Regions from separate parts of the Homo sapiens genome. Here regions 2, 3 and 4 are each linked to region 1. Evidence: fine-mapped expression QTL. A gene starts in region 1. Each other region holds a variant in brackets. All regions are shown on one strand. Distances are between the middles of the regions. Region 1 holds the start of COBLL1 (cordon-bleu WH2 repeat protein like 1). Region 2 has its middle 34 kb from the start of SLC38A11. Region 3 overlaps COBLL1 (cordon-bleu WH2 repeat protein like 1). Region 4 overlaps COBLL1 (cordon-bleu WH2 repeat protein like 1).

Evidence for each region. PIP is the estimated chance that this variant, and not a neighbour inherited with it, causes the effect.
Region 2: its variant is the best candidate, but not a certain one, in a credible set for the expression of COBLL1 in sigmoid colon (GTEx, PIP 0.69).
Region 3: its variant is the best candidate, but not a certain one, in a credible set for the expression of COBLL1 in sun-exposed skin (GTEx, PIP 0.64).
Region 4: its variant is the best candidate, but not a certain one, in a credible set for the expression of COBLL1 in blood mononuclear cells (TOPMed, PIP 0.79).

The regions. Positions count from the first base shown.
Region 1 is chr2:164,839,059-164,846,876 of GRCh38, forward strand. COBLL1 (cordon-bleu WH2 repeat protein like 1) reads right to left here and starts at 2,765. Exons shown (of 14, transcript NM_001365672.2): 1 at 2,652-2,765; 2 at 2,098-2,188. The coding sequence starts at 2,138. LOC101929633 (a long non-coding RNA gene) reads left to right here and starts at 1,691. Exons shown (of 2, transcript NR_110574.1): 1 at 1,691-1,764. RefSeq lists a silencer at 2,739-2,948.
Region 2 is chr2:164,985,997-164,993,814 of GRCh38, forward strand. No RefSeq gene overlaps it. Among named protein-coding and RNA genes, the nearest start is that of SLC38A11, 34 kb to the left of the region's middle. The variant G/C (reference allele first, on the strand shown) is at 4,019.
Region 3 is chr2:164,719,866-164,727,683 of GRCh38, forward strand. It overlaps COBLL1 (cordon-bleu WH2 repeat protein like 1), which reads right to left. Exons shown (of 14, transcript NM_001365672.2): 6 at 2,560-2,657; 7 at 2,210-2,446. Among named protein-coding and RNA genes, the nearest start is that of SNORA70F, 36 kb to the left of the region's middle. The variant C/T (reference allele first, on the strand shown) is at 4,400.
Region 4 is chr2:164,748,863-164,756,680 of GRCh38, forward strand. The region is part of intron 2 of COBLL1 (cordon-bleu WH2 repeat protein like 1); the gene reads right to left. Among named protein-coding and RNA genes, the nearest start is that of SNORA70F, 65 kb to the left of the region's middle. The variant T/C (reference allele first, on the strand shown) is at 4,525.

The sequences.
Region 1 (7,818 bases):
TGAAGTAGAGAGGTAATTTTTTCATGTTGATATTTTTCAGGTAATGATAACTTCTCTGAGTAGAATAATGTAAGGCAAAATGATAGAACTACTGTGTTATTTTAGATAAGGTGTTGACAGATTTTCCCTACTTAAATTTGAAAAGGGGACGGCAAAAGTCCTTTACAAATGCTTGACAAATTAGATAAGGCTCTTTTGTACTTTCTTTTTAAGCAAAGAACTTATCAGTTTAACCTTTAAATTCTCAAAAGTGGCTGGGCGCACTGGCTCATACTGGTAAACCCAACACTTTGGGAAGCCAAGGTGAGAGGATTGCTTGAAGCCTGGGGTTTCGGATCAACTAGGCAACATAGCAAGACCTTGTCTCTACATTAAAATAAAATATCAAGAGTAAAGTCTGAAGGTTCTTACTACAGTTATGCTTGCCAGCAAAAAGTGTTCTTCTGTTTCTTCAACACAGAGCCATCTGACCTCACCTATTTTACTTAAAAGTCCCCAGTGACTTCTGAACACCCATGGGTGTATTTTGTGAAAGCAGGTATGTTTTTCTTTCTTTTTTGTTTTTTAAAGTACCTTAACCTAATCCATTTCCAAATCCAATTTAATTCTATCTCATTTTGCAATCCCTGAATACATTTCGGTATCCTGACAGCTGTCTCATCGTCAATTCACATAATTTTGCAGCTCCACTTAGGAACCTTGCTTGTATGCTCAATATCTTTCTACCGATATATTTCTTTACTCATCCTAATGTGAGAATATATGTCAGGATATATGAAAATATTTAAGCAATGAAAAACCTGGGGAAAGAAAAGAAATGAAAGTCAACAGTGGGAGTAATATTTGCAGAAAGGAGAAAGTTAATTTGAGCAAAATGAAATAATTAATACACTACATGTTTCCTCTATGTAAAAATTATACTAAATATCTTTTAGATTAGTCATGTTGCTTTGAGACTTTTCCATGTTTCCTCTAGACAGCTGCCAATGTTCGCATGGTCTCTGATGAATAAACATGCTGTGACTTGCTTCTAAGGAAACGCCTGTCATGTTCCAGGGAAAAATGACTTCTACACTCTTAAATCAGGAAAACTGTACAAGTCTCATTCATTAGTGACAACGTCGATTTTTCCTTAACGTTTCTATTTCTGGAATGCTCGTATTCTCATTAGGGCATTTCTGCATTCAGATTAACTAAGAAAATAAACTATGTTGGAGGAACACTTATGCTGGGGGGAAAAATCTTGTACTACATCAAACGAGTTTCCTACTTGAGAAACTCAACTAGCATCCAGGTTACTCCTGAACTATTTACTAAGACCAAGGTTATTTTCAGGTTTTCTTCATCTCTTGCAGAACTACCTGTTCTCATTACTGTTTACTCAAACGCTTAACAAGGTAACTATTAGCATATCTGGCAGGAAGACATGCCTCATTTAATATTAACTCACCATGTGACAGCCCCCTTCCTCTCTTCTCAAACATGTGAGGATAAAAAGAAAAGTAGAGTTGTTTGCAATCTGATTTGCGCTGGGTTTTGGAACCAGCAATTGGCCACAGGCACACACACCCCCAATCAGAGGCGCGCACCCCGCTCGCTCCCGGAACTGTCATGCGGGCTGACAGCTGGCACACCCTCCTGTCGCCCTCCACCCGCCTGCAGAAAGCCCACTCCCTACAGTCACCTTGACATTGCTCACCTGCCTGGGCCTCAGCCCATGACCAAGGAAACTTTTGCCCTCCCTCCCCAGGAGCTCACTTACAGGTATCGTCCACCGCTCCCCCAGAGCCCAAACAAGGGTCCCTTTGTTACAATTTTTGCTCCCGGACTCCTCACCCAATTCCTGGCATTCAGCTGGCCTGTAGCAACCCAGGGCAGCCCCGGTAGGAAGGCAACCAAAAACGACCCGAGCCCTCCGCCCGGGCGGCCTCCGAGAAGGCCGGGAGGAAGCAGCCTCCCCGGCCGCGTGGAGGACAGTCAGTGAGTCAGGCCGCCGGCAGGGCAGCGAGTTGCCAGCCAGGTGAAACGGCCGAGGCCTCGCTGTCCTCGCCGGCCTCGCCCTCCCCGGTGAGAGGCGGCGCGGCGCTCTGGGCTTACCTGGCTGGGGCGTCCTGCGGGCGCGGGGTTCGGCCGTCCATCGCCCTGCGGGGCGCTGCGCGGGCTCCAGCTCCCAGGCGGCGCGTCACTGCTGGGGTGGGAGAGGCCGGCGGGTCAGGGCGGGACGCGCGCCTTCCCGAGGCCGGAGCGAAGCTGGCTGAGCGTCAAGAGCCCGCCCGAGCCGCTCCAGCCCCGGCCGGCCCGCCTCCCGGGTGCGCTTCCACCTGCGGGCCCCGGCTCCCAGCCCGCGGGCGCCGCCGCCGTCTCTACAAGGTCTAGCGGGCGCCCAGAGCACGGCGGAGGAGGCGGTGGCGCTGCAGCCCCCGCCCCGTGGGGTTTACTGGGTAGCCATTTGGCGCCTCTCGGAGGGAGAGGAGCCGCCGGGGCTGGAAAAGGAGGAGGAGCGGGGCCGGGCGCACGGGCACCGCTGCCACGCCGGCAGCGCACTCCCAGGCTCCTCCGGCCGAGTTTGCACAAACAAAACGCCCTAGGAAAACTTTTCCCGAAGAGAAGTTGGGAGGGCTGATCTCTCTTTTCCCACCCAAGGCTCCTACGTTCTTTTCCAAAGGAGACAGTAGCTCGCCTGTTCTCCCTCGCGGCTTCCTCTCCTACTCTTCCCTTCCCCGGCCCGCGCTCTTGCCGCTCGGCTCTCAAGCCAGGACTTGAATGGAGAAGCGGCAACCCCTGCGAGGCTCAGCCCAGCGCGGGCAGGGCCGACTCAGCACCTCCCCTGTCCCGCGGGCGGGGTGCGGGCGCTGGCTGGGCGCTGGGGGCCTCGCTGGAGCCCGCTCTCTCACTCACCCTGCCCCATTTCCCTGCCCGGAGTCCGGGAGCTCGCCGCCGCCTCTGCAGCACGGCCGCACATAAGTGGGGACCAGCTCGGCGGCATTGGAGCGAGGGAAGCAGCGAGCCGGAGAGAGGAACGGGGCGGGGGTGGGCCGGGAGCAAGTTGGAATTTCCTTCCCCCAGGGCTTCGGGTCTTTGGGGTCCGGCTGGGGAAGCTGAACCGAAAGAAAGCTCCCAGACGAGGTGTTCCCATTCCCACCGCTAGGCTGCGCTTCGGGAAGGCTGGTGCGCCTGAACCGGACAGGTGCGGGGGAAGGGAGGTTACCTGCCTTGCCAGGATCCGCGGGGAGGATTGGGGCCTCCGCGGAATGCGGTCAGAAACTCGCAGAGTGGGGCCTGCAGCTTGCCCCCCCTAGAGTCCGACCCTCGACGTCCAGGATCGTTTTTTTAAATTTGTGTTTTTAACTTGACCTTTAAGATTGCCATTCTTTTAAAAGCGCACCTGTGACACAGATCTTTCTAATTGGTGGCAGGTTTAAGCTTGCCCTGTCTTCAGAGGCATTTTTTGTAAAAGCCTATAACAGCTCTGACATGAGAACTGGACAACAGTATGTCTAATGACAGTCTATAAACTAAGAATTAAGTAATAGATTGTATTCACTTATTGGAACTTTTACAAGGGTAAAGGAATCAGACACAGCTGTGTGCTTGTTTGTACGTTTTAGTATCCACGTGCATGCCCTTTAGATGATTCTTTACACCTGACAGACAGGTACTAGGTTGGTGCAAAAGTAACTGCGGTTTTTGCCATTTTTTTTTTTTTTAAAAAGTAATGACAAAACCGCAATTACTTTTGCACCACCCTAATATATTTACATATTTTATATTTTTCATAAGCGCCAATTGTTTTAAGATGCGCGCCATTCTGATGGGCCCAAAAATGTGTTTTCAGAAAACAACGTGACATTAAGAAATGAATTTAAAATTAGAGTTTTAAAAACATATTTGGATTAAACTGATGGAGAGATCTTACAGGAAGGAACATCCTGCAGGGGACTTCTGTTGTAGCACTAACATCAAGTAATAAACCTGTGTTAGCCACTGATAGAATAACATTTGGCAGGTATTACAATTAAATTGATATTAATGCTCCTTTAGTTGGTTATCCATTGCAGCAACAAAAAAAGATTGCTGAACTAAATGCCTAGCAATGTGCCATTTGTCTACCACACGCAGGCATTGGTATTTATTTCTTTCAGTGCATAATGTCCTTTCAGTGCATCTTAAATATGAAAAGAAAAAAACACATGGCTCATTTGGATTACAATACTGGAACCATATTAGAAAAAGTTGCTTTTAGAGATTTTAACTAAGAGTAAAGCAATTTATTTAAATACCTCTGGGTTTTAGTCTTTAAACAATAACTCTGTTTAAACAATTTCATGAATCATTTATGCTTCTGAATACAGAGCTGTGCAAGCTTTTACAGTTGCTTGCACAGACAATGATGCAAATATTGAGTAACAGTGAAACTACTTGAAAGTCCATAACTTTCAATCACAAGACAAGATTAAATCTTTAATTAGTTTCAGCCTTAATTTATGACATACTAGTAATATTATGGACCCTAATACCAGTAAGATTAGGCTAATCTTAGTCATAAAACATTCATAACATTTCGTAACCACTGAAGGCATTTTCAGTGCTTACCACTTTTTGCTGTCCTCCTTCTGGTCCTAGGGAGAACTATATGCTCCACCCCATGGAAATTAGGTATGACCCTGTGACTTTGATAAGTGGAAATGTGAACAGACATGAAATGCTTTATTTCCTGGTGAAATTACTGCCAGTGTTTGAGTCTCTATGTTCCCTTCCTTTGCTACTGCAATCATGAAAGCATGTATTAAAATGAAGGTGACACAAGACTGGAATGCTAAACTATTACCCAGAGCACAGCTGCCCTGGAGAGTCCCAGGACCTACAACAGAATCCACATAAGCAAGAAATAAGCTCATGTTGGGCAAAACCACTTAAGAGCACCACCAAGCTTGGTGGTCTTCACATAATGGTACTAAGCTATCCTCACTGTAGCCAGTGATTAGCAAAATAATAATCACAGATTTGCTATAAATCTTTTTTTTTTTTTTTTTTTTTTTTTTGGAGAAGGAGTCTTGTTCCTGTTGCCCAGGCTGGAGTGCAGTGATGCGATCTCGGCTCACTGCAACCTCCATCTCTGGGGTTCAAGTGATTCTCCTGCCTCAGCCTCCCGAGTAGCTGGGATTACAGGTGACCACCACCACGCCTGGCTAATTTTTATATTTTTAGTAGAGACAAGGTTTCACCATGTTGGCCAGGCTGGTCTCGAACTCCTGGCCTCAGGTGATCTGCCCACCACAGCCTCCCAAAGTGCTGGAATTACAGGCATAAGCCACCATGCCTGGCTGCTATAAATCTTTTCACATAACAGGAGAAAACTGCTGTTTTCCAATCTTTCTAGTTATGCAGAGCTGTTTCAAAATTGCCCACGTTTCCAAGATTGCGCTCAATTTCCCCGTTTGGGAATCTCCCCCTCATTTCACCACCCAGCCGATCATTTTAAGTGCCTAAGCATAGGTATTATCCCCTCAGGAATACTTCCCTCATTGCAGAAATAGAAGTAGCCCTTCCCTTTCTTGGCCCCCAGTAGGTTCTGTTAGGTAGGGCAAGGACCCATGACACTTTGTTTCAGTTATTCATTTACATAATGCAGAGTTGGAGGGGTTTATTCTCTTTTTTTTTTTTTTTTGAGACAGAGTCTCACTGTCACCCAGGCTGGACTGCAGTGGCATGATCTTGGCTCACTGTAACCTCCACCACCCAGGATCAAGTGATTCTCCTGCCTCAGCCTCCCGAATAGCTGGGACTACAGGCATGTGCCACGTGCCCGGCTAATTTTTTATATTTTTAGCAGAGATGGGGTTTTACCATGTTGGCCAGGCTGGTCTTGAACTCCTGACCTTGTGATCCGCCTGCCTCGGCCTCCCAAAGTGCTGGGATTATAGGCGTGAGCCACAGTGCCCAGCCTACTCTTAAAGGACCACGTCTTATCCTTTGTCTCCTGAAAGCATAGCCCAGAACACAGGAGACTCTCCACCAGTATTTGTGTACTGAATAAAGGAATGAAGGAAACCTTCAGGCCTTCCCTCCTCAGAAGAATCCTAAAAGGAACTTGATTCAGGGAAAGACTTCAACTCAAAGGGGCTGGTAGGCCATTTTAAATGGAACAGATGGAAGGTGAGTTTGTCTTACTAGAGAAAGAAGACTTATTCTTCACGTGGTTACCTAATGGGGTTAGTACCAAAATCAATGGGTAGAATGAAGCTAAATGAAGGTCCACTTAGCTATATATCTCTCTGAATAATAATCTAGGTTTCATATTCCTCCTGGATAGTAATAAATGGAAAGGAGGTTTACATGCTTAATAAATACCTGTGTGCTTATATAAAAAGCAGATAGGCATGTTAAAGTGGGCCATAATGGTTGGAGTTTGTCTAAAATTTTTGTAAACTATTTGGAATAATGAAAACATTTTTAAATGCTTATTTTAAGTATGTTTTTATTCCACTATAAGTACCACTTGAAAAGCTTTATTTAAAACTGAAAAATTACACTTAAAAGATGGTTAATATCTTTCTGTGCATTTCACCTTTGCACATTACAACCTAAAGGAAGTGTTTATTTTATGTCTTCTTAGATTGTGTACATGTGTGTGTTTGTGGTTTTATATAACAAGATCAGAGTTGTTACATTTCAGTTTTAATAAAAGTCTTATTTCAGACTTTGTATTTCATAGAAACTGCCCAATCTCAGAAAATATGTTATGTTATTTATGCATAAGACTTTGTTGATGAAAACAGGGAGCTGAAAGTCAGAATTGTAGCTTTATTCTCAATTCAGTAATATATGCATAATAGTTAATTATCCATTCATCTCTGTGTAGTGCTTTCATAATTTGAGTATTCCTACATGTATTAACACATAGAAAGTGTTGTTAGAATTTGATGTTCCCTATATAAATGCTTCATGAGAGCTTTATTTCAAAGTACCAAAAATATTTTCTTTGGCTGTCAGGAATCCTGGGCCAGGTTTTGTAATTAGCCACTGCTGTCTTTATCACGGGTATATCTCCTTTTCCCTTCCCTCCTATTCCAATTTGTAATCTTATTTTAATGCCTTTTTTTCAAACTGACCAACAATTAGTAGGTAAGAATAAACTCAACAGATATGTTTGTTGAAATATTATAGTTTCCTTAACACAGAAATGTCTATTCATGAAAAAAAATTTTTGATTTTGTTTCATTGAGAACTTTTTTCTTCTTTGCGCTGAAGTTAGAAATACACAAAGGAAAATATGAAAAATAGTCAACAACTCTTAAATGATTAAATCTTTACTTTGATGTCCAGTGTATGCAATTATAATAAAAACTGACAGAATTAGTTTTGTCCATTGGAACTAAAGCCAATTGTTAAACATTTTAAAGTCAAATATAATAGCTAAAGGCTGTATTGTTTATGTAGTTTTTTAATAACCATAGTAATTGTAGCCATTTTAACTCTCGTCATATCTATTTTAGTATGTGAGTTAAATGACATACTCAAATGAAGTGGTAATACATTTATTCATACTTTCAAGTTTAATGCATACCCCCTTCTTTAAGTACTAGAGATAACAATTATTTTTTGTAGAGTAATTGAGTGTGGGAGATATTTTTATCCAGTTATTTTATATTGTTTAACAGAAGAAATAAAAATCATATTTGGCTAATTTATTCCTAAAATGTAAATAAATCCCTGTTTTTCCTGTATGAAGTTTAGTATTTACTTTGATATCAAAGTTTGAAGAAAATAAATACAATACTATTTTTAAAGGGAAAATATGAATTACACTGTTCATCA
Region 2 (7,818 bases), 150 kb after region 1:
ATAAAAAAATTAGAGCATTTTTTTTGGGGACTGAGATATGCTCAAGATAAATTAACTGTCACAGGAGAACGTAAAACATAAATATCTAAGGGTGAACCAGAACCCGAAGGCCAAGTCTGGGTGATAGGATATTATGGAATGAAAGAATAACCCATACTGATGAAAATGTCACTTACCAAGATGATGATCTTACTGTGTAGGAACAGCAATTGTTTAGCTACAAAATATGTGGTAATCATGACTTGCAGAAATAAGACTGGTAAAGTCTCCCAGAAACTTTCAGGATTCCTAAAACCAGTCCTTTGTCCAAAAGTCATCTTCATAGTAGTGGCCATATCCTGAATGAAGTTACTCAGTTCTTAAAAGCATACTGTCTAGGTCTGAAGAAGAATACGGAGAGTGAAGGCAGATTCATGGACCAAGGAAGGTATTCATAAATAGAACATATAATGGGGTATGAAATGATTTTAAGGGGAAATGACAATGACAATGACAGCCATATGTAGTATGTAGGGGGACTATTGCTTTCAATCTTGGAAAATGAGTTCAAGTTTTGATTGCATCAAAATGGAGCCACACTGAAATTCTCAGGTAGAATTAGCCATACATCCTTTGTTTCTGGGTTTCTGAGATATTGGTGACAGAACTGAAACTAAGAACAGATCTATTGTCAACTATGATTGTCTTGCCTCCTTTTTTTCTCTGATCTTGTTTACTGCCTGAGTTTCCCCTCACATTATACCACCACAACTAAGCAGGGACCTTATTTATTAAGAGTACATTCTTGCATATTTCTGCTTTAACATAGTGTTAGTTCAGTATCTAAGAGTGAATTAAGGGGAGAAGTAAGCAGTGTCTGTATATGCTACAGACAATGAGAAGACTGTCTTACTGCAATATTTTAGGCATGTGCCTTGACTTTGAATGAAAGTTCCTGTCCATATCCTAAAGGAGAAAAGAGGTGCACTCATATTATTAAATATCCCCTAGATTTTAGTGAATATATGGACTACTTTTTTAAAGCAAATCTGTAAGGGCAGTTGTCATTGTGGAGAACTGTGGGTTTAATTAGTCTGTCTTAATAATATAAATGGAGAAAATTTAGTTGAGAACAGTGTTGAATTTTTAGCAGTCCAACGATATCTCTTTGTGGAGAGAGCATTTGCTTTATTAAATCTCCATGAGATAAACTCACATTTTTAGGGGAGTGTTAAGAGAAAATCTCTCCAAGTGTTTAAGCCTGGGAAAATGAGAGAGGGGAAATACAGAATGAGGTCATGTGAACTGTCAATTGTGAATAAGAGGAAAAGTCAGAACCAAAGAAAAGCCCTTAGTGTGTAGAAGAGGTACAGATTGAAAATGAGCTGTCAAAAAGAAATGTGGGGGATAAGCTAGAATAAAACACCTAAAGAATAAATTTCAAGGAAAAAGAGGAACATTAATAGGGCCAAATATTGATTAAACTTGACTGAGATAAAGGGAGAGAGAAAGGTGGTTTGATTTGGGGATTAGGTTATTAGTAACAATCTTCATAAGCAAGTTTCCAACGACTTGTAGTAGTAGAAACTGGGATGAAGGGAACTATGGTAATTTAGGAAGGACAGATAGAGTATCAGTATCTTTGAAAAGTTTGCAGGTGATGAGATCAATGAGGATAAATGATAACTTAATGGGGTGTCACGGAATCACCTTAAGTTGGCTGGTGAAGACTTGGGCAGTTTTTAGGAACAGATTATATTAAAAACAGGAAAAAAAGAGCAAAGAAAAATATATTAGGACTTCTAGCTGCATGGTAAACAATAAACTCTGGTTTCACTAAATATATTTGGCATATATTAATTATAGAATTTTCCTTGCAAATGTTGTTACAAATTATATGATATTTCCTCTTTTCCAATTTTCCTCTTACAAGGTAAATTCACCTAATCTTTATTATGATATATTTGTAAGGGGAATTGAATTATAAACTTTCTTAGGCTAAAATAAGGACAAAACAAAAATTTTCTGATAAAATTTTCTTGCAGTATGCCACCATTTGCCAAAGGAAATCAGCCATTGTAGCCTTTTCTGCAATCTTAAGTTTTTTGGACAAATATCTATTGTCCAAACTAAAATTTAGTTCTAATTCCATTCATATTAGATATATTTATTTAATACAGCATTCTGTTTAATACAGACTTTATAAATAGAATCACATTTTATTTTTAAATGTCATATCCTAGAGGAATGTTTGTACAAATCATTTAAAAATGAATAGTTTAAAAATAACTTAGCTTTAGTCTTTAAGTATTTACATGCTGATTTGTCATACATAAAAGGATATTCTTCTTCTTAATTATATCTTTCTGATACTGAATTTTAAAGGTTTTTTTTGTTTTAATTACACAACTGGTGGTGACAATATAACCCTAGATGGCTATGGTATATTTGTTCAGGTGCCTTGAGAAATACCAAAATTTTTGACAATTTTTTTTCCTTTGGGCCAGATCTTTTTTATTACAATGAAAGAGAAATTTCAGTACACTAAGAGACAGAGACTCTACACAGAGTTTCAATTTCCCCTTAGCTCCTATAAAATGGAATATCATGCTACTGAGATATCTCATGCACTGCTCTTGCCTTCTGTCTGAAGATGGGATTCATGAATTACCTGAATCATCTGGATCCCTAGAATTGGATTAGTGGCTCAGACCACTCCATCTTTTGGGGCAGATGATAGAGGGTGTCTATTTCCTACAGCTAGGTTGTTGCAGTAAGATTACATAACTCTTATTTGATCTTTCTCATTATTTTTTTCAGGACATAAATTGTGTTCCAATTCTGATATCCAATGATCTTACCTCATTTGGGGTAGGTTAAAGTTGATACTCATTAGGACTCTAAGTACCATATTTTTCTACTTAGTGCAAACGTCAGAAAGTAAGTAATCATGTTTAAACTGACAAGAGCTTTAACCAGGAAGTTGCCTACATCACAAGATCTCCTTCCTGTGGTAATGTGCATGGAGTCTTCCACAAAGAGACAGACAGATGCCTGCAATAACCGGCTTAAGAAAAGATAACCATCAATACCACTGGTTGATTTCATCTGCTCCTATGAGAAGGACAGATTGTACATGGTGCTGTCAGATGATCTCAGACCATAAAGAGATTTCCTGAGAGATCGTTATAATATTGGGATAAAAATTTATTACAAAAAAACTCATAGAGTGAATAAATGATAGAGGTAAACAAAAGTTTATTCTATTAAAACTTACATTTTGCAGCTTATTACAACATATGTTATGATTTGAATGTGTCCCCTCCGAAGTTCAGTTGTTGCCAATATGATGGTATTAGGAAGTGATTGAGATCGGTATTAAGGTATTAAGATGGTCTTTAAGAGGTGATTAGGCCTTACAGTCTCTTCCTGGCTAATGGAGTTAAAAGGCCCTTATAAAAGAGGCGTCACACAGTGCTTGTCTAGTTGCCTTTCCACCTTATGCCATGTGAGGATGCAGCAAGAAGGCCCTCACTAGATCAAATGCCTAGAGCCTTACCTTATATTTTCCAGCCACTGAAACTGTGAGAAAGTACATTTTTTTCTTTATAAAATAGTCTGTGGTATTTTGTTACAGGAGCACAAATGGACTAAGACAACATGCATGTAATTAACAAATGGGTCTTCAGTATAAGCATGAAGGAGATAGCTTTCCAGTTTGCTAAGAGATGTCTAAACTGGACATCCTTAACAGCTGCCCCTCCACCCATAACCATTGCACCAGTTTCTATATAAAAGGTCAGAACTCTGCCTTTTACTTCGAGAACTTCTTTTCTGGAAAGGTCTAACAGCTTACTATCCATCCCATTATAACTAGCTATAATATTCTGTCAAATTCCTTCAAATTGATTTCTCTGTCTTAGACCACCATACCCATCATAATTCTGAAAGCTGAAATAGGATGAGCACCCTCTTCTCTACAGATAGCCCTATATGGAACCCTTGGCTTCTGCTGAGATAAGATTTGAGATAGGAGAAA[G/C]AGAAAAGCTAGTTTGCCAACCAGAGGGAGGATGATGTGTTCAGTTTGCAAATGGTAAGATTTAGATGTTCTGTAGACAACTAGAGGTATTGGAATCCAGGCTTGGATGAGAGGTTTGGTTTGGTACATCAATTGAGTAGTCATTAGTATAAAAATGACAACTGGGCTGGGTGTGGTGGCTCATGCTCGTAATCCTAGCACTTTGGGAGGCCGAGGCGGGTGGATCACCTGAGGTCAGGAGTTCGAGACCAGCCTGGCCAACATGATGAAACCCTATCTCTACTAAAAACACAAAAAATTAGCTGGGTGTGGTGGTGGGCACCTGTAATCCCAGCTAATCGGGGGACTGAGGCAGGAGAATTGCTTGAACCTGGGGGGTGGAGGTTGCAGTGAGCTGAGATCGCACCACTTCACTCCAGCCTGGGCAAAAGAGTGAAGCTCTATCTTAAAAAACAAAAAACAACAACAACAAAAAACCATCTGGTGCTAGAAGGCAGGATTGGTAGGCAAAGGGGAAGTAAGTGGAGAGAGATTGGGATTGAGGACCCAGTCTTGCAGCAAGAAGAGGAAGCAAGTTATTGAAGGAGATGTGAAAGCCAGGTAGAGAGGTAAGAGAAACCTATTACAATGGCCCCATCACAGCGGGCCTTCACAGTCACACAAGCTTCACATTTGGATCTCTAAATGAGATCATGTCTCTATATTTTGTGAATATGTATTAAACTTTTAATTTAGAAGCAATAAATATTTAAAACATATGGAAATGTTGGGACGCTTTAAAAGAAATGGGCTGTGTGTGGTGGTCACATCTGTAATCCCAGTGCTTTGGGAAGCTGAGGTGGGAGGACTGATTGAGCCCAGGAGTTTGAGACCAACCTAGGCAACATATTAAGACCCTGCCTCTACCAAAAAAAAAAAAAGAAAAAAAAAAGTTGGGTATGGTGGCACATACCCATAGTCCCAGCTACTTGGGAGGCTGAGATGGCAGGATTGCTGGAGCCCAGGAATTTGAGGCTGCAGTGAGTCATGATCACACCACTGCACTGCAGCCTGAGCAACAGAGCAAGACTCTGTCTCAAAAAATAAATAAATCAATGAAAGAAATAAAAGTTGCTTGGATTCTTACTAACTTGTGATTAGTCCTGGGAGGAAAATCAGAAGACTGTTCCAGGAACAGGCAATTGAGGATGTCAGAAAAGTCAGATGTTGGCAAGATGTCAAAGAGAATAAGAACTGAGAGAAGACCATGATGTTCAGCAAGGGGGGCCACTAGAGCTCCATAAGAGAGAGGCCTGGGTATTGTGGTCAGAGGAAGTCAAGGAATTAGTAAATGCTAAAGAAAGTGGGACAGGTCTCAAGCATCCTTTAGAGAAGTTTGGCAATTAGAAGCATGTGTGTGTGTGTGTGTGTGTGTGTGTGTGTGTGCCACTGTTCATTTTTACCTCTCATCTCCTATCTCATCCAATACCTAATATTCTCTAGGGAAATGGAATCCTGGCTGAAAGGCAGGCTTGTCCTTCAGCTGTCACAGTGCCCAAGAAGTGCACAGAAGGGAGTCCTTTTTTTTTTTTTTTAAATTTATGCTGTGGTTCTGGGAGCCAGAGATAGAGAAAAAAAAAGTTGTCCTGGAGTCTGTTGCATTGTGACTGAATCAAGTTATCCATAAAAGGACTCAAAAGAGGAGTCTGGGTTCACAGCTTAAAGGAATGAGGCTAAACAGCAGAAAGGCTCAAGCAACCACTGGTGGAGGGGAACAAGTAAGAACTTGTCTGGAGAAGTTTGGAGCCAAGTATAAATACCCACTGCTGACATTCACACATTCCCAGCTTGCTTGTCCAAGGGCAAGCAGGAGTCATTCAGAGCCTGAACTTAATAGGCATCTAATATTGCTATGTGTTGTTATATCTCAACCACCACCAACACCACCACTCCCAGCTAGCACTCACAGAGCACCTGACCTGGGAACAGTGCCTGAATCAGAAACAGAAACTTCTAGACTGATGTGGTTCAGTGGTGCTTACATAGGCTATTGTTTACTACATCTGCACCAACCTTTCAGGAAGCATTTGGCTTGTACATTTAGCTCTGTGGCCCACTGAAGAGAATTTCCTGTGGGCAGTGGGGTGAGGAACCCTGCCTTAATCTGCTTCTCAGGTATTCTTCTCCCTTGCTTTTATGTGTCAGAATCTGTATAATCCTTGTAGGGCCTATCCAGGAGTAGGCAGAGCCAGAGTGCCCATTCCTGATGTCCACAAAGTACAGCAATGCACCCAGGCTTGATTTGGAGCCACTCTTGCCTTCCTGACTGTTTTCAAAGATATGTTGCATGGCCTCTGAGCCAGTGCAACAAGACTTGCAGGCATTGGTATTTGCATAACAAATAGTAATTTTTTTTTGCTTAAATAAGGGAAATAGGGAATATTTATCATAGCTATACATTTATTCATTTAATTCCTATTTATTTATTCATTCATTTATTCAAACATTTCTTAAGCATGCACCACGTGTCATGCCTATCTTAGAGGCCACAAAGGTTCTAAAACTATTACGTGCCGACAGAAAAAGAGACCCATATACATGTAGCATTATGTCTTATTGGAATTCAGAGCAGGAAGAGAACACATCTGGCTGGGGGCAGGATGAGGAAGGACCTGATAAATTTTCTATTGAACAATTACTCTAAGTGTGCTTTCTTTAGATGGTAAGGATTAGACCAGGATTCAAGATTACTGGATTTTGAGTCAAAGTTTGAACTCCTTGGGGGAAAATCTGCATATATGCAGAGTCATGGTGGTAATTACAGTATTAAGCCCCATTTTGGAACACTTTGATCTGATCTGATTTAAAATTTTATTTCCTGAAAGGTTTACTCACGTCATATTAAGGTACTCTAGTCTTTTTATTTGCAAACTCATTTAAAATCTAAATACTGCTCTCTGCTTTGGACTTGGCTGCTTTTCAATAACAGGAAGGAATACTGTTTTCATCAGTTTTGTATATCCGCCACGAGAGGGCAGCATTTTACTTCTTTTAAGATTTAACGCTGTTCTACAAAATGCTGAGCTGTGCCTGGAGGGCTTTGTGATGTGGAAAATCTTCAGAAATGTTCAGTGAAACCCAGCATCCTCTGATTCATCTTTAAAGAGGAGAAAAAAATATTCTACGTGACTCTATTACCAATCTTTGGGCAGAGAACCAAATAATTTGGCCAGGCTCTCAATCTTTGTGGTTGAAAAGTTATCAGGAAATTTAAAATGTAAATTCATAGTTACAGAGCCACTAGTGAAAATTTGCTTTTTAATGAACTTTTTTTTTGGTCTATATTTTCACCCTCTGGGGTGGGGGCTCTTTTAAATGCGCCTGTTTAACCATACTGCATCCAGAAATGTATACATATCACAAACCTGTTGGTAATGACACCAATGCAAGCTCCGTTTCCCTTCCAGTCATCTGTGGACCACACCTACACCAGCGCTTCCTTCTGCGCATCCTATGGCACCTGTCTACTTCCTGTTTTGGGAATCCCCACAGAGGCTAGCACAGTGCTGAACTTGTAAAAAGTACGCAATAAATGATCCTCTTCCTGAACGACATTGGATGATAATAAAATCTCTTGTGAGAGAGAGGTGAGACGGGGGAGGGGAGAGAGACAGAGACAGAGTCAGAGCCAGAGAGAGATCAAAAGGGAAAAGCGGGCAGCAGCAGGGAGGCAGGCTTGAGGAGTCCCTGTCTGATTTACGTGGGGGCCACAAATTGGTTTGATCAGGTGTGAAGTTTACACGGCGCCGGGAAGGCTGGTT
Region 3 (7,818 bases), 120 kb before region 1:
GAAATATAGACCAAGACCATGGATTTAGTACCTCCAAATTTAGAAAATGAATAAAAGAAACAGTGACAAGAAAAAAAAAATAGAAGAGGGCTGAGATATAAGAAGAGGTTCAAGACCAAGGAAGAAAAAGACAAATCAAGACCAAGGGGGTAATTAACCACATCAAATATATCAAGAAGTTAGTTGCAGAGATGCCTAGGAAGGTATGAATTTTTGTGTGCACTACAGCTTTATCACTAAGAATTTTTGCAATGAATAAATAAAAAATGGTTCTTCAGCTTCTCTAGGGAAAGACAAATAAGTCTGGGTCCTACTGAACAATACATCAAAGAACTATCCAGATGTCCAGATCAAAAGAAAAAATAATTAGAAAATTGTATAAAGATGTGTAGTTTGCCAAAGGCAACATACTAAAAAAAAAAAGATTACTTAACACAGGGGCAGCAACTGGTCACAGAGCAGAGGGAGAGAATCAAAAGAAATAGCTTTCAGTGAGGTCACTGGTGGCACAGCCCAGAATTTTAAGAAACAGACTATTAGAAAGACAACATAGACCTCTTGGGGAGCCAAGTACAAAGGAAGTTTACTGAAATAGATTGGATGAGGACAGCTGGAATAAAGATTTGTGAGCATGGGCTAAAGTATATTTCTATATATATTAATATATGCAAAAAGGTAGCTACTCAAGAGTATAATTTACACTCTTCTATGATACAACAACCCTAAAAATGCTACTTCTTATTGTGAATAAATTTAAAAGGGCTACAAGCACAAAATAAAGTCTTTGGGACCCTGACTTGACCCCTGCTTACCATGCTTAATTTCAGTCTCTGTTTCTTGCTCATGTCCAGGCAAGCCATCGTGTTCACATTCCTGCGTCTCTTAACAGGGTTCCTTGGCCTAATGCACTCCCACACATATTTTAAGAGTGAACTCAAGAATCATCTCTCCGTGAAGATTCTCCCAACTCTCAAGCAGTTACCCTGCAAATTCTTTGTCAGTATGTGACTCTATAACTTGACAAAAACATTATCCTCCTGATTTGTGAGATTGGATGAGATTTTATAAGATGAGATTTTATACCACAAATACTAAATTAGACAAGAAAGTCTTCATAGAAATAAGAAACTTAATAGATAATTTTCCAAGTACTGAGGTTAAGCATTTTCAAAATTCATTTCTATCTCTTTGAGTTGCATGTATGATAGCCTATAAACTACATTTTAAAACTATGGTTAATTTTTTTTAAGTAAAGGAAGCACAGAAATGTGTACCAGGTGCTTGGGAAGAGTTAATTTACTTTAGCATTGCATTTACTAAGCCCCCAAGGGGGAAACAAAATCTTTCAACTAGACACAAGAAAACTTCTCAGTGTCTCAATTATCTCCAAATAAAATCTGCTCTCAAAGTTACTTAAATCATTCTTTCTGATTACCAGCAACAATATATACAGTCTCATCTTCAATCATATATACCTAAAAATTCATTTATTTTTCACATGGATAAAGCAAGGAATATGCAGATTGTTTAGTCATGAAAAGTAGTTTGCAAATGGATCTCCACAAAATGGCAAACTCAGGGAAAATTTGAGATTAAAGGTGTGTAATAGTAAGAAACTTTGAGAAAAAGGTACACATAGAACTGTGCTTTGAAGATAAGGGTGCATAAAGGTAACTGTGATATATTCTATATAAAAAGGCTCATTTTCTTTTTTCACTGTGGAGTATCTATGTACTAGGTAGATACCAGGCTATTCCCTGGAGAATCTGAGTCAGGTCAAGAAAATACGTGTGGTTAGAAACCCATGAACACAACTCAAAGACTGTGTTACTGTATAAAAAAGAACTATTCAAAAATAAAGACTGTATTTCCATTCCTATTACATGCACCTAGCAAGAGCCCCTAGTTAGGCCTTAGTAAACCAAGACTTTAGGTTTTCAGATTTTTTTTTGCTTGAATATGAAAGTTACTTAAAATGGACATTTATCCTTTACTGCATCACAGACCTGTATGTACATAGAAGATCTATTCCTAGTACCAATCTTAGAATGAGCTATTCATCTTATTACATATTAGTAACTGTTACTAATTACCAACTGTTATAGGACTACTTCTTACTAGTCTACCTAGAAAAGATGTTAGGTAAGAGGAAAAATAAATGGTACACTGCCTCATCCAAAAAAACAAAATAGAAAACAAAACTACACACCTTATCTGTCTCATCCACGCTCATGGATTTCACTATACAAGAAGCAGGCCTCTCCTGGATGTGTGCAAGGTCTTGGGGGACACTCTGAGATGCTGGCATCGGGGGCAGTGGAGCCCGCCTCTTCTTGGGTGCATCCGACGGCAGGGTGTTGGAAATATATGGTTTGGAAATGGTATTGGACCTTGTAAAAGTTGGGCGGTGCTTATTTACTAGAGGGGTTGCAGGGGCACTTGCAGTCTAGTAAAGAATGACAAAGACAAAATCTAGTAATTTCAAGATATTAGTAAAAAGCATTAGTAATTAAAAATAATTGAAGAATCTTACAAAATGCAATATAAGAAAATACTTACTTGGTCTCGCTTTTTCTTACTGCGTTGAAAAAAACTGAAAAACCCTTTATTTTCTTTCTCCTTCATAATATCTAGGTTTTGTGATATTTGGCAGGACTCTAAAATAGAAGAAAAGCATCTTACTTTTGTATGTGAGGTTGACTGTTCACTTCCAAGATTTCTTTCTCTTACTTCCCCTTTGCAAACTTATCTAATGCTAAAAGCTACTAATTATAGTCTACAAAGAAGCACCTTAAATCTTATTAAGTTCTCAAAGCAACAAGCAAATATTGTTCCTATTTCACAGCAGAGGAAACTGAAGCTTAAAAAACTAAGATACATAATCCAGGCCAACACTCAGGAAATGACAGAGCTACGACACAAACTCAATTTTTTTGACTCAGAGTCTGTGTTCTGCTTTTGAAGTATAGAAGCAAAATAGAAAGGACACTTCAAATTACACAAGACATGAAATCGCTACCACACAGTTTGTTCCTTTATTTTGATTATACTTTTGTCTCACAGCTAAACAACTATGAAATATCTTATTCTACAAAATGTGAGTCATTATAATTGCTCAGTACTTTGTTAAATGTTTCATAAAAGTTATTTCTTTAATAGGGTGGGTCTCAACTGGGACCAATTTTGTCCCCCAGAGGACATTTGACAAAGTCTGGGGACAATTTGATTGCCACCATTGGCAATGAGGTTAGGAGACTGTGCTGTCTGCATTTACTGGGTAGAGGCCAGTGAGGATTCCAAACATAGCACATTGCAAAAGACAGTCCCTAATGACAGAATTATCTTGTCTCAAATGTTAATAGTGCTGAAAATTAGGAAGCCCTACTTTAGTTAGAAGGGCAAATGTCAAACCTCAAGGTTGTATACATAATATTTATATAAAATTTTCCAAAAAGCATCTCCTAATATCAACTGAAGGGCCTACAAACAATGACACAGCCAGTAGTGCTGAGCCTCCCTGGCCCAAATTGGCTATAAATTCCATTTCCCATTAAAAGAAACCATGATTACTTGAGAATGGTTGATTCTCTGTTGGTATCAAAGAATCTACAAGATAAACTTGGGACATCTAGCCATACTAGAAAGAATGCTATCAAAGTCTACCAGGTTGTGTTAAAAGGACTCAGGAACCAACTTGAGACAGTTTCTACTGGTAAAAATAAGGATAATTTGGACATCATAAAAGTAACTCAATAAACTGAAACATGTCACATGTGTTTAATTTCATATGTTCATAATGATACTAAAAAAAAAAAACTCTTTTTTCACCTTTGTGTTATGCTAGAGAACCAGTCCATTATTTTAAAAACTGATGAAAGGAAATCATCCAACTTTTATTATACCTTTTTCTTTTCTTATTTATTTATTTATTTATTGAGACAGTCTTTTTTTGAATCTCACTCTGTCGCCCAGGCTGGAGTGCAGTGGCGTGATCTTGGCTCACTGCAACCTCTGAGTCCTCGGTTCAAGCGATTCTCCTGCCTCAGCCTCCCAAGTAGCTGGGACTACAGGCATGCATCCCCATGCCTGGCTAATGTTTGTATTTTTAGTAGAGACAGGGTTTCGCCATATTGGCCAGGCTGGTCTCGAACTCCTGGCCTCAGGTGATCCACCCGCCTCGGCCTCCCAAAGTGCTAGGATTACAGGCATGAGCCACCTCATCCAGCCTATTCTACCTTTTTCTGATTGAATTCGACTTATGTAGCAGTCATATAGCTGACACGGAGAACCTTACTTTTTCAGTAATATTGACTGCAATAGACTTTCACCATTTTTCAAATCTTAATTAACTAAGATGTAGACAAAGATCATTGATGGCTAACATCAGAAAAAAATAACT[C/T]GTTGTTACATGTTTGCTGATGGAAGTACACAGCAACACTTGTGAAGTATTCTTGCCAAAAAATCTCTCGCCAAAATCTGATCAAGCCTCTAGATTTAACCATCAATTTACAGGAAAGAGAGGGGAAATTTACATTGAAATAAAATTTCAATGACATTGGCAATAAGTTAAACATTAAGTGACACCACAGGAGGCAAACAGTAAAAATCTGAACACGGGAAGCTATAAAACAAATGACCTAGTTTCTTCAATAAATGAGTAGCAAATTTTTCTAAAAGGTTGGAAAAACAATGAGTGGTGATCTGTAAAACTAAAAAAATATTTCTTCTACTAAGCAACATATGGATTTTATGGTAAATCACAATATAATTTCAATAACATTTGACATAAAATATTGTGTATTAAAATTTGTGAGACATAACTAAAGCTAAACTAATAGATAAATATATAGTCTTAAATGCTTTTATTTAAAATACCTGTCTAAGAAAACCAAAATAAATTATGGCAAAATAGGGACTACTTCAGGAAAGGAAAGCTAGTTAACACCAAATAAATACAATAATACAATATGCCTCAATAACATATGAAAGGAAAACTATTTTACAAAGTAAAACTTTTAAATCTGATGATTCAAATATTAAATAAGCAGCATACATTCTGCACAATGAGTTTGACAATGCTAGCAACTAATAATAACGAACACGTAGATAGCACTTTATGGTTAAAGTTTTTTTGCATGCCTAAATGTTTCTTAGAATGACCTTGTGAGGGAAGTATCAAAAGTTATCACTCTGAGCCCTTTTTCTCATTGGAAGATGCTAGCATTTACCCTGCAGGATATATATATATATATATATATATATATATATAAAATGAAAGCAGTGGTATTACTCCATTACGCTCTCAGGAACTATAAGTGAACAGAGAGTTTTCGTAACTTGCACAAAGACAAACAGGCATTAAACAGTAGAACTAAAACTGGTATCCATTTAAAGATTATTTATATTTGTATTATTTTTACATTTGCCACTATTTCAATTTAAGATGGAATACACCGCTTATCGCATATGGATACACAATTAAATTTACTCAGAACAGTAGATGAAAAATTCATATGGTTGTGCAATACAATAAATATAACCAGAATATTTTTTATTTTTTATTTATTTTTTTGAAACGGTCTCACTCTGTCACCCAGTCTGGAGTGCACTGGCAGGGTCATGGCTCACCACAGCCCTGACCTCCCTGGGCTTAGGTGATCCTCCCACCTCAGCCTTCTGAGTAGCTGGGACTACAGGCATGTGCCACCACACCCGGCTAATTTTTGTATTTTTTGTGGAGATGGGATTTTGCCATGTTTCCCAGGCTGGTCGCAAATTCCTAGGCTCAAGCAATCTTCCCACCTTGACCTCCCAAAGTGTTGGAATGATAGGTGTGAGCCACCGTGCCTGGCCCATATGGTTATTTTTGGTGAAGAAATTTTCAGGTACATGGTCATCCTCCACACTAGTTAGCCATTAAGTTTTCACTTAAAGCTCTACATCAGGGATCATAGCAAGTCAGGTTAAACAGTAAGACAAGCAAAGGCTTTAGCTTACTTAGAAAAGCAACTCAAATACTGTAGTTTCCTGTTTCTAGAAGGCAGGCTAAATATAATTGCATGGTAAGTTCTAAGTTTTCAAAATAGTATCAGAAAAAATAAGGAGGCAAGGGTAGTGACAGCATTTGGATTGACCTTGTAGATTCTGATACTGTAAACTTTCTTAATTTTAATATTTCACTCTCTTAAGATTTGTCCACAACATTTCATATTCTAAATAAACCACATCCTTCCATTACTGGAAGGGATATTAGAAATCAGTGCATTCGACAACCTCAAAATGAGGCCAGAAAGTTTATGGAATTTGCTTAGGATTATGCAGATAGAGAGTGGCAAAATTAGGAGTAAAAGTCAAGTACAAGTAATAAAATGTTGTTGCTAGAAAGAACCACAGAGACCACTATTTCTAATCTCCTATTATTATAGAAGTAGAAGGTGAGATTTCACTAACACATAATATATGCAGTTTGTTAAGGCTTGTTTTTTTAGTAGGCTGGTAATTATTAGGGTAATCAATTATTTGAGACTTTTTCTTAATGGGTGAAAAAAGACTTCCACAATTTATTATTGGGCAATTTTTAATACAGTTTTTCTCTATGAAAGGAATGTATGCCCATTATATAATTCTGTATTATAAAGAAAATAAATAATAAAAAAATCACATACCATAACCCTACCACCCAAAGGTAACCACTATTGAAATTTTTTATGTATTTCCTTTCAGCAATTTCATATAAAAGCATTTATTCACCTATTGTGTTAAACACACTTATATGGTATAAAAGCTAATTTCAACATAAGCATTTTCCATCTTATTACAAAATATTCACAAACAATGACTGCAAAATTTCATATGATTAATATAACACCATTATTCTGAATTACTGTTCAGTGAAATAATCTGAAATGCTTCCTCGGTACTACCAAGCTATTAGCATTTGTACCCAGTAAAGATCCTAGTAAATCATTTTTCCTTGTATGAGAGTAAAGAATACGTTTTCCCACACTGTTAGAATAATTTTTAAACATTTGTTGAAATGAAATTATTATAATTAAATTCAGAAATCAAGGGGAAGGAACCTATACATTTTTCAAGGAAATAAAACCCAAATATTTTCTAGGTTAAAATCTCATACAGAATGAACACGTTAGTGATGTTAAGAAAGGGTAAAATTAGAAGCTTAATTTCAATATATCCAATTTCATGTTATAATTTGTTTCTACTGATTCATACATCTTACCTTGTAAAGATGACTTACTGAAGACAGTAACAGAAGTGGCTACAGAAGGAGGGGTATAAAAGAGGGTAAATTGACTGTGAAGATGATGTTTGTTCAAGTATAAAACATCACTGAGTTGAAAAAGTAGTCTATGGATTACATAAAGCCACCACCTCAGGATAAATTTTGAAGTCTCTATGCAAAGAGTATGTAAATAATTGTCAGCTTCACTAAACTTTTATTTCTCTTAGTGAAACAGATTCATGTTGAATAAATGTTTGCATTTGTCTACTAGACATCATACAAACCAGCATTATCTAAGATCTCCAAATTTTAATACATCATTTCTATAGATTAAAACTGGGAGCTATTTCAAAAATTTTTTGAATTAGACTGATACATTTCATAAGCCAACTTATTTTGGTGTTGACCTTAGGAAAAATTTGGCAAGAAACTTCCAAACTTGAATGATAATTAAGACTCAGACAAAATCATAGTGAGTCCACAGTAATTCACACTTGATTAGAATAACAATGACTTTATATGTAAATTTTTATTTTCTGTTTAAGCCTCAAAGCCATGAAGAATTAAGTTAAATC
Region 4 (7,818 bases), 90 kb before region 1:
TATTAAAATTATCTCAATATTATACTCAATTTTAATAATGAGAATTAAGGCAAAATTTGCATTATTCAATAATATATTTTGATAATATCATAATCTCATTTTAACACCGAATTCAATTAGTGTCCTACTATTACTGCTGATTGGTCTTTTTATCATTTTGATTTACAGGGCACTCCAAAATCATGTGCCCACTGTAATCATTACTCCATTACTGTCAATATAATATCCTTAAAATAGATAAAAAGAGGAAATAAAAGAGCTCAGCAAAACATAATTCTAGTCTTGATTTGAAAAAGCAAAGGTTTAAAATGCTGTATGAGATATACTTACATCCTTAATAAGCTACTCAACTCCAATGGGCTCTCATCAGTTTGCTGTATTTATCATATTTATAAAGTATTCTTATAGATTCATTCAGAAAAGTGCTATACAAAAAATATGGCTTCAATATTAAATACAAAAATATGAGTGAATTCTCAGTCTTAAAACAATAGGGTTTTTAAGTATTGCAGTCTAAAGACCAAAAATAAATTTAACAGTAACCCTCTCTCAGCACAAAGAGGGCAATCAAACATAGATAGGATTTATTGTGGTAAGTGTTGATGAGGCAGTCCTTCAAAATAACTGGCAGTGTTTTGATGGCCACTAAAGTATGTATTTCAATTATAAATTGAAGACCAATTTCTCAACACGATTTCTCAGTTTCTCTGTCTGGGTTTAATGAAACAACAGAAGAATTTTTTAAACAAGATTTGTTCAGAAGTGGGCATAACATTGTATTATGTGCTCAAGAGAATACAATTAAAAACAATAAAGCCCTTTTTTCTTGATGAGCCTAATTTCAAATAGTGAGTATGTCAAAAGGGCTTGAAAAGATATGCAATAATGAAAATCGACAAGGAGAAACCCAAAACATTATATGACTCTCATATTACATTTTTTTTTTCTCAAGGTTGCCAATAACCTATGAGGGTCCAAATCATAGACAACTGTCTGTCTCATCTTGGTCACACTGAGCACTATTTCACAGCCACTCAAGTCCTCTGTGAGGGATTGTCTTCCCTTGGCTTCTTCATGTGGGCACACAATCTACTGTTTCTTCCTTCTTCACTGCCACTCCTCAGTCTCCCCATCCTCACCTCCTCTGATTTCTAAATGTTGGGGCAACCCAGGGTCCATTCTCTGCCTTTTTCTCTTCTTTCTACAACCTCCACCTCCAAGAGACTTCATAAAAGCCCATGGCTTCAAATATCACTATATGTCAGTGGCCGTCAAATTTACATCTCCAACCTGACTTGTTTATTGAGCTCTGACTTTTATTCCCAACAATCTCATGGTTATCTCCATTTGGATGTCCCATAGGTATCTCAAATGTTCTATAACCAAAACTTGATTCTCCTCTTCATCTCTAATCCTCATTCTCACACAAACCTACTCTATATTATTCCCCATCTCTACAAATGGCTCCACTAACCACCCAGTTAACTCAAGCAAAAAAACTCCAGCAGGCATACTTTAATTCCTCTCTGTCCTTTATCTCCTATTTCCAATCTGTTAACAATTCCCCTGGGATCTAAACTCTAAAACATATCCTGAACTTCTATACTTTTCACCAGCTCCCTGCTACCACCCTGGTAATCAAGGCATCATCTTTTCTTGCCCAAACTGCTTCAAAAGCCTTTTCACTGGTCTCTCCTGTTTCTCCTCTTGTCCCTTAAAATCTATTCTCCCCTGTAGTAGTCAGAGTGAACTTTTAAATATGTATGCCATTAGGTCAGTGGGGGAGAAAAACAAGAAAGAAGACATAAATCAGATCACATCTCTCTAATCCTTCACTGGCCTTCCAATGCATTGATGAACCCAAATTCTTTTCCTTGGCTTGCAGGCCCCAAATGAGCTAGCCTGGTGGTTCTCAAAGTATGGTTTCAGAGCAGCAGCCATAGTACTTGGCTGCCGCACCCCTGAGACAGACATAATCAGAAACATTAAGGGCAGGGCCTTACAATCCACATTTGACAACTCTCCAAGTGATTCTGATGTATGCTAAAGTCTGAGAACCAATGAGACAACCTCAGCGCCCCTCTTGTTACTCCCAGTTTCAATGCCCCATGTAATTCACACTGGCATTCTTTCCTGAAATAGACCCAGTCTCTTCACATCCAAGAGCCTTCCATAGCTTTGCCCTCGGTCCAAAATGCTTTTAACCAGAAAACTTCAAATTGCCTGCTCCTTGAGGTCATTCAGAATTCAGATAAAATATTTCCTCCTCTTAGAGGTATTCTCTAACCACTCAAAAAAGGTACCAAGGCACACCCCACCCATCGTGGCCCACTCTTCACATAGCCCTGCTTGGTCCCCATCACATTTATCACTATCTGAAATCATCCTGCTTATTTACTTATTTCCTTGTTTTTTATTTGACCCCAGAATAAAAATTCCTGGAGGGCTGGGACGTGGCCTGTCTCATTCTCTGCTGGCACCTAGAACTATAACTGGCACAAGATGGGGTTCTCTATGAGCATTTTTTTTTATTTAGTTGAGGAAGGAAGGGAGGGAAGGTCATATTAGTTTCATCAGTTCATAGGAGAGCAAAAACTTGGTGGGTTGCTGAGAGTCAACCTGTTCTGTAGCCAGAGGTATAAGAAGTCATTCAAGTCATTCATGAATATCTACTGCTAAGTCCTTTAAAGGTGCTTTTGGTCTACATTTAATCTTATGAGGCCATTGCCACTGCCATTTAGCTGGGGTTTACAGAGGTTTAAGAAATTTGCCCCAAAGCGCATAGAACATGGGACAATTACAAATGAAAACCCACCAAATCCCCCCGCCAATAACCCTAGCAAAGGCCACCCAAATAACTCCCAGTGTTTAAATAAGCCCCAAAGACATGCACATGGATAAAAGATCTCAATCCTCAGGAAGTTTCTAAATGGTTTTCCTATTTGGGGAAGGGATTAAATTGGGACTGACAAAATTTTAGATTGTATGAAGACTCCCTCATTTTGCCCAGACGCTCGGTAATTTGCCTGAAGCCATGTAATCTGTGGGACAGGACTCAAATCTGTAGCTTCCTTTGACCAATGAGAATTATGATTAATATCAGAAAAGAATAATCTAATTTTTCATTTTTAGGAATGGGACTCAACTTTCAGTTATACTTGGTATAATGTACCAAGCAAAGAGGCAGTGGCATATTCACATCAAAGAAGCACATATGGAATGCTAGTGTCATGTCCCAACAGTAAAAGCCAAACAGAACACAAGAAAAAGTAGTTTCTATCCAGTATCAACAGCAGCTAATCCTTGAGTGTTGACTGTGTGTTAGAAAATGTTTTTTACCTGCACTAACTCGTGTCCTTACTACACTATATGAAGCAAGTGCTGCCACCTCCACATTCCAGATGAGGGTGACATGCAGACAGATTAAGGAACTTGCCTAAGGTTCCTTAGCCAGTAAGTGGTGGAGCTGAAATTTAAACCCAAGGTGTCTGATTCTGAAGTTGGTGCTCTTTACTACCACATTACATCATTTCTTTGAGATCTTAAACATTCATCAAAATAAACAAAAACAACAAGTGAATGAGCAAAAGCCAGGTAGTGAAGGAGAAAAAAATATGTGGTTATTGAATATCTTCTAAGTCCTGTACAGGTGCTTTTTGTCTACGTTTAATCTTATGAGGCAGTTACCACTGCCATTTAGTTGGGGTTTACAGAGGTTTAAGAAATTTGCCCAAAAGCACAGAGAGCATGGGACAACTACAAATGAAAACCCACCAAATCCACTCCCCACTACCCAATAACCCTAGCAAGGGCCATAAGCCTCAACATTTAAACAGGAAGGCAGATACCAGATGTACCCATACCCCAGCCCTACCACTGAGACAGCTACTTCCCCAGGTGAGGTTGGAGAAACAATATACTGGACATCAAAAGGCCTGGGAGTATCCTAAATGGCCACTTGTGTTACCGTAAGTAAATCACTTAATTTCTCTGGCCTTCCATTTTCTCATTTACAAAATACAGGTATTGAACAAGATGATCCCATGCCCCTTTACCTCTGACATAAAATATTTATGCACAATTTTGTTTAGAAACTGGAAATGGAGACAAGATAGTTAGGACTAGGGTCAAGGCAGGGCACAGTGGCTGCACTAATTTACAAGTAGCATTTGGTTGAAAGAGTCACATGGACAGGACGCCCATTCCCAGGGAGTTCTTCCTATGCTGAGAACACTTCTGCTCCTGGTCAGGAAAGGGTCTCCTCTGAGGCTCACAGGAAACAGAAGCCTGGAAAATGGGATCCATTTCCAAGTGCTTTTCTCTCTCTTGGCATTCACACTAGGAAAAAATGATAAAGGGAATGGCAAACCCAAAAGAAAATTTTGAAAAGCTCTTGTTTCAGTCTCCCACACTCAATTATTTTACATTTCAACACCTGGAATACCAAGTCCCTACCACAAGCCATTCATCACTTCAGGCTTTCTGCCCCCATAGCACCTCCACTTAAGTCTGACCAATAATCCA[T/C]AGTCCCATCAATTACATCCCATGTTTCTGCCACCTTAAATCTCTCTCTCCAAGGTGCACAAACAAAAAAAAAAAATGCAGAGATTTCTATTATCTTAAATACGACTTGCCTGCTTCTTCCAAGTACTCTTTCAAGTACCTTGTCATTACCCGCCTTTCTTTTGCAGCAAAACTTCTAGGACTCTGCTGTCCAATATGGCGGCCATGTAGCTACTGAGCACTTGAAGCATAATTAGTGTGACTGAGGGACTACAGTTTTAGTTTATTTAGTTTTAATTTGAATTTTAAAACTGATACTTGATTCAGTTACTGGAAAATGTTTAAGTATATTTGGGATAAGTTGAGTATGGGAATTTTTTTTTTTTTTTTTTTTAAGACAGAGGCTCACTCCGTCACCCAGGCTGGAAGGCAGTGGTACGATCTCAGCTCACTGCAACCTCAGCCTCTTGGGTTCAAGCAATTCTCGTGCCTCAGCCTCCTGAGTAGCTGGAAGTATAGGCATTCATTACCATGCCCAGCTAATTTTTGTAGAGACAGGGTCGCACCACGTTGGCCAGGCTGGTCATGAACTCCTATCCTCAAATGATCCACTTGCCTCGGCCTCCTAAAGTGCTGAAGTTACAGGTGTGAGCCACCGTGCTGGCCCAGAATCTATTTTTTCAAGTATAAATTTCATGACATCTAAATACAGATCGGGTATTTCCAATGAAAATATAACATCTGAGTTGAGAAGTGCTATAAGTGTAAAATACACACTATATTCCATAGACTTAGTAAAAGGTATTAAATATCTATTGGTAATTATTGTATGCTGACTACATGTTAAAATAATATTTTTATATACTCAGTTTAAGGAAATACATTTACCATGGTGGGCCTTCTCTAAGATGATGTCCAATGACTGCTTCCTTGTGCAGTCTCCTCCCTTTGTACGTGGGCTGGACTTAGTGACTCACTTCCAGTAAATAGAATGCAGCAACAGTGATTGGCTGTCATTTCTGAGATTAGGTTACGAAAAGACCATGGTGTTATTTTAGGTACCCTCCTGCTCTGAGAGAATCCAGCTGCCCTATGGGGAGTCCCATGTGGCAACTGACATCTCAGGCCAATAGTCACAAGAGTGAGCTTGGAAGCAAATCTCTCCCCAGTAAAGACTTGAGCCCCAGCCTACACCTTGACTGCAGTCTCATCACTCAACCAGCAAACTAGAGAATGACAGTTCTACATACACGCTGTACCTGAGTTTCAGTTTCAGGTGATTTGACGTACTCGCTGTTCTAAAGCACTGCTCCTGGCATCACCTACATTTAGAGCACATCGTCTTTGCAATCCAAGAACCTTTCTTGTTTTACACAGAAGTCTATTTTAAATTCTTTTAGGACCTTGTCTATATTTAAAGGAAACATGTAAATCCTTTTGTTCAATAATTAGCTATGATGATCTATCACACCCATCTCTGTGTGACAATGAAGTAGAGCAAATCCAAAGACAAGACACAGGTTTCCGGCTGGGTGCAGTGGCCCACACCTGTAATCTCAGCATTTTCGGAGCCCATGGCAGGAGGATCACTTGAAGCCAAGAGCCTGGATGACATAATAATACTTCATCTCTACCAAACAAATTTAAAAAATAGCCTGGCATGCTGATATGCACCTCTAGTCTCAGCTACTCGGTAGGCTGAGCCGGGAGGATCACTTAAGCCTGGGATGTCAAGGCTGCAGTGAGCCACGATTGTGCCACTGCACTCCAGCCTAGGTGACAAAGCAAGACCCTGTCTGCAATAAATATATGAAAATTTTTTTAAATGTTGTTTTTAAAGACACAGGTTTCCCTCTAGCATGTAGAGTATGGCAGAAAGAGTAAAGACGTAGCCAAGTGACTAGCACAATGCAGGAGTGAAATACCCCAGGGTACCTTGTGCATAGTTTCCAAAGTACATCACCTTATCCACCAGAAAAATTTTTTGAGTCAAAAACCATTAACATAATTTTGCCATTTTTGATTAGTACATTACCTTCTGCATAGTATGTTCAATTAATTCTTAAAGAATGAATCTACTTAAATATAGTTTCATTAGGTTGATTTTTTGTTGTTATACCTCTCTCAAATCTTCCCCTTTTACTACTTTTAAGGAACATAGCAATTATGTAAAGTGGGCCACAGGACACAATAGAACCTCTTTGTATCATTAGACCTTTGAGAATAAGGTTAGCATGAGTAGATGAAGCTTTATTGTAATTTAGTTGTCATATACCCAGAAAGACATAACCTGCTCTGTGTTCTAACTCATGTAATAAAAGGGTCATGTAGGTAATGACAGGATTCTTTAAATTTAATTTAGCTCGCAACTCAAAAGCTGTTATTTCTTAAATGAAATTAGATAGTTCACTTGCTTCTAAATGCCCTTTTAAATTCATGTAAACAAATGGACAGTATTTATCATCCTGCCATACTTTTCATGTATATATAAAAAATCACTATGCTGTGCAAGGGTGGTTCCCAAATACATCTTAGAAGTTGTTCTGCCTCATGCTTAGTTATCATTTCAGACCTTTAATAGACATAGGGCCAGCTTTTGTTCACCTTACTCTAAATACATTCTATACATATAGTACACACATACAAATGTGTGAGTATACATACGTGCGTATAGTGTGTATATGGCAGCATGAGAGAGAGAGAGAGAATGAGGGAGGGAGGGAGGGAGAGAGAGAGAGAGAGCAAGAGTGAGGGAATGTGCTAGTGAGCACCATGAGCACTTATTTTCCTTTGGCTTTCACTAGAGGTCTATTCCAAATTCACTTGCCAAGTAACTTTTCCTGAAGCAACTCTTATTCTCCTATTCTAAGCAGATATGTACTCCAGTAGAAAACATATGACTCCTAAAAATACTTGTGGTGAGGAAAAGTTTAATATTCACTATGATAGCCAGTTACTGAGATGCTAAGTAACATAATTCTCTCTCTCCATTCCCCCTCTACTCATCATCTTCAGGTAATTTCCAGGGAAATTTCTTTAACATTTAGTAATATCCTAATAATATTTTCAATTCCAAAACCCTGGTTTCTATTTTTTGTTTTGCTTATAATATCTAAAATAGTTAAAAAATGGCAAAATATATTTTTATAAAAGTTGATAGAGTAATAGTTTATTCCTAAGCAGCATCTCTAAGTCAATAAACTTATTCTAGTATCTATAAATTTAAAATAAGTGCTTTAGATAATCGTTGTATAACTTGGCCTTCACTGTTTTTGGTGGGGACATGTGGGCGATACGGCAGGGAGAAAACAAAAA